Regions from separate parts of the Homo sapiens genome. Here region 2 is linked to region 1. Evidence: fine-mapped QTL for protein levels in blood plasma. A gene starts in region 1. The other region holds a variant in brackets. All regions are shown on one strand. Distances are between the middles of the regions.

Region 1 (5,000 bases):
AGTCTATAGATGAGAAAATAGCCTCAAAAAGTTGAGGTAACTTGTTCATAAATAACTGAATGTGGGCTGGGCACAGTGGCTCACGCCTGTAATCCCAGCACTTTGGGAGGCCAAGGCGGCAGGATCACCTGAGGTTAGGAGTTCAAGACCAGCTTGGCCAACATGGCTAAACACCATCTCTACTAAAACTATAAAAATTAGCCAGGCATGGAGGCACGCACCTGTAATCCCAGCTACTTGGGAGGCTGAGGCAGGCGAATCACTTGAATCCAGGAGGCAGAGGCTGTGGTGAGTCGAGATCACACCACTGCACTCCAGCCTGGGCTACAGAGCAAGAATCCATCTCAAAGATAAATAAATAAATAAATAAATAAATAAATAAATAAATAATCAAGGGTGGATTTGAACACAGGCTGACTCTAGAGCCTTCCCTATTAACAACTATGCTCTACTGTGTTTCTAATGCTGAGAAAATGAAAAGCAACATTAAAAAATAATAACAGATAAGGATTTATGAGCTCCAAGAACACATTCCTTTTACTTTACCCATATTCCTGAGGGAAAATTAGTCTTTCTTTACATATGTTAAATGAATTAATGGAAAAGAAGGAAAGAATATTCCAGCTACTTGGAAATTAATTAAAATACAGTAGCCCCCTCACCTTATCCTTGGGGGATATGTTCCAAGACCCCCAATGAGTGCCTGAAACTGCAGATAGTACTGAGCCCTGTATATATTGTATTTTTTCCTGTACATATATACCTATAAAAAAGTTTGATTTATAAATTAGCCACAGTAAGAGCATCAACATTAATATATAGAATAATTACAACAATATTCTGTAATAAAAGTTAAGTGACTGTGTAGTCTCTCTCTCTTCAAATATCTTATTGTACTATACTCACTCTTCTAGTGATGCTGTGAAATGATAAAATGTCTATGTGATGGGATGAAGTGATGGAGCAAGATGATGTGAGATTTCATCATGCTACTCAGAAAAGTGCACAATTTAAAACTTATGAATTATTTCTAGAATTTCTCATTTAATGGGGGACTACTGTAAAGACTTTCAAAGGTTTTAAAGACTAGTCATGGTTGTTAAAGAATTTAAATGCAGGATTATATCTAAATAAATATATAATTTCAAGATAAAATGCAAATGATAATTCTCAAAAAAAGAAGTTGAATAAGATAAAATAATAATCTAAAAGTAATAAACTGGCTATAAATTCCCCGATTATACCAACTTTTATTGGTAAAACTAGGAAATAGGAGAAAATTCTTGAAAGAAAGTTACAGTGATTTTCTCATGTTACAAAGACAGGAGCTAAAAAAATATTATTGATGGTTGATGTAAATAATTAGAAAAATTCAGGTAAAAATCTTTTTAAAGAATTTTAAGAATTAATATCAAAATGTAAAACAATGTATTCCTTTCAAATTACTTAAGGAAGGCCAAGCACCGTGGCTCATCCCAGTAATCCTAGCACTTTGGGAGACCAAGGCAGGAGGATTGCTTGAGGCCTGGAGTTCATGGCTGCAGTGAGCTATGATTGTGCCACTCGACTCCAGAATGGTGACAGAGTGAGACCCATCTCATTAAAAAAAACAAAAATGGCTTCAAAAAGTTAAATAAAATATATTTAAAGTTAGAAAGAAATCAAAGAAAACATAAAGAATCAGCAAGGAAGCATTTTAAAAATTACAGATTACCAGTTATACAGTAAATATATTTTATTAAGCTTACCCATTAGAAAGCTCCTTTGATATGATTTTCTTAAACATCTACAAGTGACACACTTAAAACAAAGATTTAGGAAGCTTAAGAGGAAAAGATAAAGACAAAAAAATAGGAATTACATCAAAGTAGAATCTCAGAGGTAAAACTATCACATGAGCAAAGAGGATCACTTTTTTTTATGATCCCTAATACAACTCATACAACTTCATGTACTAAGTAACAGTGCTAAAATATATATAAAGTAGCTTTCCACCATGGCCACCATTGGAGGGCAGCAGCCATGACACTGCACTACCCTATAGCTGTGGGCCTCAACAAGGGCCACAAGGTGACCAAGAATGTGAGCAAGCCCAGGCACAGCCACTGTGGGCGCCTGACCAAACTCACTAAATTTGTGTGGGACATGATCCCAGAGGTGTGTGGCTTCACCCCTAACGAGTGGCGTGGCATGGAGTTACTGAAGGTCTCCAAGGTCAAACAGGCCCTCAAATTCATCAAGAAAAGGGTAGGGACAAACATCTGCACCAAGAGAAGGCAGGAGGAGCTGAGCAACGTCCTGGCTGCCATGAGGAAAGCAGCTGCCAAGAAGGACTGAGCCCCCTGCCATCTGCCTATAATGAAAGCTTTGCAGAATAAAATAAATATAAAATAAAGTAATAAAATTAAATTAAATTTAAAAATAAAATAAAGCAAAACAAAATAAAATATATAAAGTAAAAATTGTTGAAAATGCAAAACAATATGGACATAAATACAGAAACACAGGGAAACTTCTTTAGGCACTCATTTACAGGTAAAAATATGAAATTGAATAAAGGTCATCTGGTGTCAAATAATATAGGCCTTATCTATTATAAGAGTTTGGACTGAAAAGCAAAAGTGAGATAATAAAAAAAAGCTTTTCAGAATATTATTTTGTATAGATATGTGAAGGATGAAGGGTGGGTGAAAGGACCAAAAACAGAAACACAGTCTTCCTGAATGAATGACAATCAGAATTCCGCTGCCCAAAGTAGTCCGACAATTAAATGGATTTCTAGGAAAAGCTACCTTAAGAAGGCTGGTTACCATCTGGGTTTTCACAGTGCTTTCACATTCTTATCACTTTCAACACTACTGCAAATAGGAAGGGACAGTAACATTTAGAAGAGAACAAAACAGAAACTCTTGGAAGCAGGAAAGGTGCATGACTCAAAGAGGGAAATTCCTGTGCCATAAAAGGATTGCTGGTGTATAAAATGCTCTATATATGCCAATTATCAATTTCCTTTCATGTTCAGCATTTCTACTCCTTCCAAGAAGAGCAGCAAAGCTGAAGTAGCAGCAGCAGCACCAGCAGCAACAGCAAAAAACAAACATGAGTGTGAAGGGCATGGCTATAGCCTTGGCTGTGATATTGTGTGCTACAGTTGTTCAAGGTATGCAGTAATTTTTATTTCTCAACCTATAAGTTCCTTTTCTAATGTTTCAAATGTCTTTTCTTCCACTTTTATCCTAAAAGACATGATAAAGTTTTATTTAATCTCACAGATTAGAAGTTACTACAGCTTTAGCACAGAAATGGTGGACATGTTTAAGATACTAGAGATGATTATTGAAACTAGAAATTATGAACTTCATGGAATTTTTGATTTGGCTAGAATATCTGGCAAAAGCCTTTAGCAACAGTTTTAAATGTCTGTTAAGAAGATTTTATATAGCGATCATGTTAACAAGCTTCCTGGGAAAATATTTGAGGATAAAATCAAGGGGGCAAAACAAGCTTCACCTCCAATAAACTTCCTTCATGCTTCCCATTTGTTAGCGATTTGCTTACTAATTTAATGAGAAAATAATCAACATCTTACTTAACTTTTCCCAGTAACAGTTGTGTTAAGTGCTATTTGACAAATTACTATCTTTACCCTTAATGAAAATTCTGCTCACGTTCACCACCAGCTATAAACCACAGCCATCTGTTGCAATCAGATGCATTACTAACTAATGCTATGATCTATTCTAGGCTTCCCCATGTTCAAAAGAGGACGCTGTCTTTGCATAGGCCCTGGGGTAAAAGCAGTGAAAGTGGCAGATATTGAGAAAGCCTCCATAATGTACCCAAGTAACAACTGTGACAAAATAGAAGTGATGTAAGTAATGAACTTGCTGAAGATGACAATGGTGCAGGCTTTTTTGTTTATGTATTTGCATCTAAACTTTAAGACTCTTGTATGTTCTTTTAACAGTATTACCCTGAAAGAAAATAAAGGACAACGATGCCTAAATCCCAAATCGAAGCAAGCAAGGCTTATAATCAAAGTAAGTTACCAAATTACTCCCATGTTATAATCTGTTTTATCCAAGACAGATCTTTTGAAAAAGAAAATAATGTGGACAACTACAGAAAGATTCTGCTATGATCCTGTGTGAAATATTCTGTTAAGGGGTCCTTGGTTGTAACAGCTTCCCCTTCTTACTACATGTTTTTAGATGTCCTGGGGGAAACAAGAACAGCCCAAGTAAATAAAACTCTTGTTTTCTTATTCCAGAAAGTTGAAAGAAAGAATTTTTAAAAATATCAAAACATATGAAGTCCTGGAAAAGAGCATCTGAAAAACCTAGAACAAGTTTAACTGTGACTACTGAAATGACAAGAATTCTACAGTAGGAAACTGAGACTTTTCTATGGTTTTGTGACTTTCAACTTTTGTACAGTTATGTGAAGGATGAAAGGTGGGTGAAAGGACCAAAAACAGAAATACAGTCTTCCTGAATGAATGACAATCAGAATTCCACTGCCCAAAGGAGTCCAACAATTAAATGGATTTCTAGGAAAAGCTACCTTAAGAAAGGCTGGTTACCATCGGAGTTTACAAAGTGCTTTCACGTTCTTACTTGTTGCATTATACATTCATGCATTTCTAGGCTAGAGAACCTTCTAGATTTGATGCTTACAACTATTCTGTTGTGACTATGAGAACATTTCTGTCTCTAGAAGTCATCTGTCTGTATTGATCTTTATGCTATATTACTATCTGTGGTTACGGTGGAGACATTGACATTATTACTGGAGTCAAGCCCTTATAAGTCAAAAGCATCTATGTGTCGTAAAACATTCCTCAAACATTTTTTCATGCAAATACACACTTCTTTCCCCAAACATCATGTAGCACATCAATATGTAGGGAGACATTCTTATGCATCATTTGGTTTGTTTTATAACCAATTCATTAAATGTAATTCATAAAATGTACTATGAAAAAAATTATACGCTATGGG
Region 2 (5,538 bases), 43 kb before region 1:
AGGTAAAATGGCCAAACCTGGCTTGGTTTAGCCCTCCAAATGTAAATGAAGTGCCCTGGCTTGTTCTATATACCACAGTTTTGGAACTGGCCTCACAAGGTTTTCTCAGCAACTGCAGGGCTCTTGTGAGGTAAAAGTGGAAAGCTTTGAACTGGAAGCCATAGATATAATCTTCTCGAGATTGGCCAGCCATCTTCACAGCTTCACTGAACAGATGGTAAAAGGGAGTTTGCTCTTGAGCTTCGGAAATATATGCCATCAGGGCTATTCCATGGTTATCCTTAAAATTCATAGGGAGAAAGATTTGAGTCTTTCGGGCTGCCCATTTGGCTTTTGCATTTTCCCACACAGTATCTAATTGCTGGTGGCTTGCTTTTTCCTCCTTTAGCAGTTGGGGAACGTATTTAATTTCCATCCTGTCCGTACATTTCAGGTATTCATCATCAAATGCATTATCTGCCATGTCTAACACTTCAGCCTTCACCTTCAAAGGAAAAAGAAATTAATACTCTTGAAATAAGAAATTCAGTGAATATCATTTTCTCTCACATTATTACCCCCACCTTCTCATCCCTTGCCAAAATTCTCGCCTGACTTATAACCAATTTTGGGTAGGTTTTTATGCAGGAAGTATATTCCATTGCTATTGATAACTTTTCTCAGCTGTGCCATATTTGTGTGAAAGAGTAAATGTCAGTGGGTGAGAGGTATGGGTGAGATTGTGCCTGTAGCTCATTTATCTGGACATTATGGCACAGAGCAAAGAACAATGGATGTGAAGCTAAAGAAATGGGTGGCAGTCCTGGCTTTGAACATCTTAGCTAGATTTCTTCAACCCTTCAAGGCTGTTGGGAATTTGAAGTATCATATGCAAAATATTATTCATGATCTATAACACATAATGACAAACATTACCCTTTTCCTTTGGGGTTGCCCCCTCCCTTGTCCATATGGCCTGGGTAGAAATGATTTTGCACCTCCTGGATAAGCAGGTGATCTAAAGTCTAGCAATCAGAGCTCCCAGAGGAAAAAAATGGATCTTTCTTCCTCTAAAGCTGTAAGCTCTAAGGATAATATTGGCCTAGGGCTTCCAACAGTTATTCTTTAGTCCCATGGAGAATTCTGTCTTAAAATAAAGCAACAAATAAGGCTTGCTGAGCTGAGAGGTAGAGATGAGGACCCGAAAACATACTTTAGACGCTGGGCCTAACTGTACTCTTCACCAGTTGTAAGAATCAATAAATTCCCTGTTTGCTTCAGCTAGTTTGAACTGTATTTCAGTCACATACAACTGAAGAGGCATAATACCACATACAACTAAATTATACATATACATATGTTCACATAACATAAGAAGCAGGGTGGTGTAATGTAATTAACACCACTTTGAAGCCAGGCAGATCAGAGTTCAAATCCCATTTGTTACTAACTAGGTATGGGAAAGTTACTTGACATTTCTAATCCTCAAGTTTTCAATTTTAAAAAAAATTAGGATAAAAGGCCAGGTGCAGTGGCTCATGTCTGTAATCCCAGCACTCTGGGAGGCCGAGGCGGGCAGATCATGAGGTCAGGAGTTCAAGACCAGCCTGGCTAACATGATGAAACCCCATCTCTACTAAAAATACAAAAATTAGCTGAGCGTAGTGGCAGGCGCCTGTAATCCCAGCTACTTAGGAAGCTGAGGCAGGAGAATCGCTTGAAACCAGAAGGCGGAGGTTGCAGGGAGCGGAGACTGCACCACAGCACTCCAGCCTGGGCAAAAGAGCAAAACTCCATCTCAAAAAATAAAAAATAAATTAAAAAAGGAAGACAAAGTGGAGGAAATAGTATTTAACTGTGGGATGGCTGTGAGAATTAAATTATGTAATGAACATATGCAAAGCCCTCTGCCCCATGCCTGGCACATATCAAGTCTTTAACATGCCGTGGTTATTATTATTTTTTCATAAGGTCTTTCTCCAGTGTGATGTGGTTTTTTTGTATTATTTCATGCTAGGAATATATGTATTATACTGTTAGATCCTTAAGGGTACGGTCTGTATCGTTTTTATCTTTGAATCCTACACACCTAGCACAGAACCTGGCAAAATATTCAAGTGAACTACATTAGAACCCTGTACTCTGGCTTATGGATCAAAAAATAAGATGATCAAATCTCCCCAGGAATACCATTTATGAGTTTCTACAAATAAAAGGATAATGCCTCTTCCATTAGTCTATACTTGTATGGTGCATAGTTGCATAAGTCTGCTTAGGGACCTCAGTTGGAGACTTTATAGACATATTTAGCTAGAAGCTGTTAAAGTTACAGATTCAAAAAAAAAGTTACAGGTTCTATGTGAATGATACTTAAAAACTCTCTCTCTCTCTCTCTCTGTGTGTGTGTGTGAGAGAGAGAGAGAGAGTGAAAGAGAGAGAGACAGAGAGAGAGAGACAGAGATACTAACTTGTAAACGCAAAACAAAACTTGCTTCCATATCCTGCTCTAGGTATCTCCTTTCCCATCTCTCTTCTCTCCCTCACGAACAAACATCTTGAAAGAGATGTCTGTCCTTGCCATCTCCACTTCATTTCCCACGTATAGCTCAACCCTCCCCATTATGGCTTCCCACCCATTTCTCCACCCAAACAGCTCTCACTTAAGGGAGCATTTCTTCTTAGACTCTTTTGCAGACCCAACATATTCCAGTTAGCCATTAAATGTTGGAGTTCCTCAAGGCTACGTATTTTCTAACTCTCAACTCTACGCTCCCCAGGCAGTTATATACATGCTTACAGTTTCAATTATGATCTAAATATATCTGATCTATCCTGTAAGTGCCAGTCCTATATATCAAATTTATCTGCCTACTTAACACCTCCACTTGAATGTTCAAAGAACCTTCATACGTAACATGT[C/G]TAAGACGAAACTTACAATCGTACAGCCACAACGACCTGGTTCTTATTTAAAACCATTTTTCATTTGTGAACTTTTCCTACATATTTCCTTCTCAGACACACTGGGTGGACACTCTATCACTAAGTTTAACAAACATCTCCAGAGTTCTTTCTATATGCCAGGCACTAAGTGTTCGGCAACCTTGTGAGGTAGGTACTATTATTAGCCCCCCGCCTTTTTTTTTTTTTTTTTTAACAAAGATGAGGAAACTAAGAGATTGAGACTTACATGGAATTGGAATTTGATCTCAGGCAGTCTAATTCCAGAGTCTTGTCCTTTTTTTTTTTTTTAGACGGAGTCTCGCTCTGCCGCCCAGGCTGGAGTGCAGTGGCACTATTTCGGCTCACTGCAAGCTCCGCCTGCCGGGTTCACGCCATTCTCCCGCTTCAGCCTCCCCAGTAGCTGGGACTACAGACGCCCGCCACCACGCCCGGCTAATTTTTCTGTATTTTTAGTAGAGACGGGGTTTCACCATGTTAGCCAGGATGGTCTCGATCTCCCGACCTCGTGATCTGCCTTTCTCGGCCTCCCAAAGTGCTGGGATTACAGGCGTGAGCCACCGTGCCCGGCCGTCTTGTCCTCTTAACCAAACTGTTCTGTTGCCTCTAAAGAATCAGAATGTTTCCAATTATGAAGACCATGGACATTTATGTAGCACTTGAAAAAGAGTGTAATTCTGTCTTCATTACAACATTTATAAAAGGTTAACAAAAAATAGTTAACACCATTTTACAAACGAGGGAATTGTGCCAGCTTCAGAAACTATCTTGATTACTAGCCACAGAGAATTCTGCCATGGAAGTCATTAAGACCCCCGTAGTCCTGGGTTTGTAGGTCAGTTTCCTGACATGGGAATTTGAGCTTCAGGAGATCAAATCACTGCCATCTCATAGCCAAGAAATGCACTTTCCTCCACAGCACAGAATGTACCAGAGTGCAGCTTGGGTGCCAATGCCTGATTTATCTTCAAGACTTCAACACCGTATAAGACACCAGACCCTGAAAACACCTCCCACATTCCTTACATTATATCAGAGTTGATCTACTATGTTCCTGTCTTTTCCCTATGCCTCTAACCAGTCTCCAAATGTCTAATTTTAGACATCAAGTCTTTCTGGCCAGACACCATAGCTGATTGTGTATTTTGTATGGTGCGTGCCTTGAGCAGTGACAAAGTTCATAAATGCCACCACTATTCAGGGACAACTGAACAGATACTAAAAAACAGGTACAAAAGGCTAGGTGAACAAGCTGATTATATTTCTCTGATATAACCACCGAGAAAAAAAGCCCATACTAATGAAATTCAATTACCAAAAATTTCTTACAAAAATATGGAAATGACCTAAAGGTCAAGGAGAGAAACTGGCTAAGCAAATCATGAAACAATTACAGAACAAATACACTTAAATTATGTTGCAAGAGTATATTGAAAACCAAATCAAAACCACAATGAAATACCACTTCATATCCTCTACGATGGCTATAAATGATGAAAAACCAAGTAACATGTAACACAAGGATGCAGAGATATTAGAATCCTAATATACTGCTGGTGGGATTGTAATACCATGCAGCTAGTGTGAAAAAGTTTGGCAGTTCCTAAAAAAGTTAACATAAAATTACCGTACAACCCAGCAATTCCACTACTAGGTGTACACCCAAGAGAAGTGAAACATGTTCACAACAATAGGTAATTTTGCTATGAATCATAAATCATAACCCCCAAATTCATTCTTACATATATATTTCCTATATATAAGTAAACTTTACTCTGTAATGCTACCAAATAACCAAATAGTGTTTGTAGTATCTCAATATGTCAAGACTATATGATTAGAAAATTTTTTAAAAAGAAAAATAAAACACATGTTCACATAAAAACTTGTACATAAATGTTCACAACACCACTATTCGTAATAGCCATAAAGTGGAAACAGCCCAAATGTCCATCAGCTGATAAATGGATAAACAAGATGCGGTACGGCCATAAAATAGAATATTACTCGGCTATAAGAAAGAATGAAGTACTGATAGGACTCCTGAGAACATTATGCTAAGTGAAAGAAGCCAGACACAAAAGGTCACATATTGTATGATTCCATTTAGGCGAAATATCCAGAATAGGCAAAACCATAGACACAGAAAGTAGACAGTGGTTGCCAGGGAATGGGGGATGGAGAAAATTGGGGCTGACTGCTAATAAGTACAGGGTTTCTTTTTGGGTTGACGGAAATGTTTTGCAATCAGATAGTGGTGATGGTTGCAGAACATAATGAATATACTGAAACCACTGAAGTATACAGCTAAAAATGGTGAATTTTTATGGTATGTAAATTATATTTCAATAAAAAACATACTGCGACACAGGAAACAGGATACACAATGATTCTATAGAAAATGGATTAGAATATTAAATTCAAAAAAGGATAACAGTTTAAGAATTTAAGATATTTTTAAAAAGGCATCTAAAATGGTGCACAAATACCCACAAGTAATGTGGCAGCTAACAACGTGGGGAAAAAAAATCAAGTGAAATATTATATTTTACATAAAAATATGTTACAGGATGCTTAAAGAGTCAATTGCAAATAAAATCA

Alleles and levels. Alleles are on the strand shown, and positions count from the first base shown. The strength of an association depends on the size of the effect and on how common the allele is.
With allele C in place of G in region 2, the plasma level of the protein whose gene starts at base 3,017 in region 1 is lower (weak association).

The links. A credible set is the group of variants that fine-mapping cannot tell apart. PIP is the chance, under the fine-mapping model, that this variant and not a neighbour inherited with it causes the effect. The UK Biobank Pharma Proteomics Project read protein levels with antibody pairs (Olink). The fine-mapping took linkage between variants from a reference panel, not from the people measured, so its PIPs are less certain.
Region 2: its variant is the best candidate, but not a certain one, in a credible set for the plasma level of the CXCL11 protein (UK Biobank, PIP 0.86).

The regions. Positions count from the first base shown.
Region 1 is chr4:76,034,087-76,039,086 of GRCh38, reverse strand. It overlaps CXCL11 (C-X-C motif chemokine ligand 11), which reads left to right and starts at 3,017. Exons shown (of 4, transcript NM_005409.5): 1 at 3,017-3,160; 2 at 3,745-3,871; 3 at 3,968-4,040; 4 at 4,271-5,000. The coding sequence starts at 3,100. The coding sequence ends at 4,294. It also overlaps a transcript of ART3 not described here and the pseudogene RPL36P8.
Region 2 is chr4:76,076,770-76,082,307 of GRCh38, reverse strand. It overlaps ART3 (ADP-ribosyltransferase 3 (inactive)), which reads right to left. Exons shown (of 12, transcript NM_001130016.3): 3 at 1-484. Among named protein-coding and RNA genes, the nearest start is that of ART3, 4.8 kb to the right of the region's middle. The variant C/G (reference allele first, on the strand shown) is at 2,899.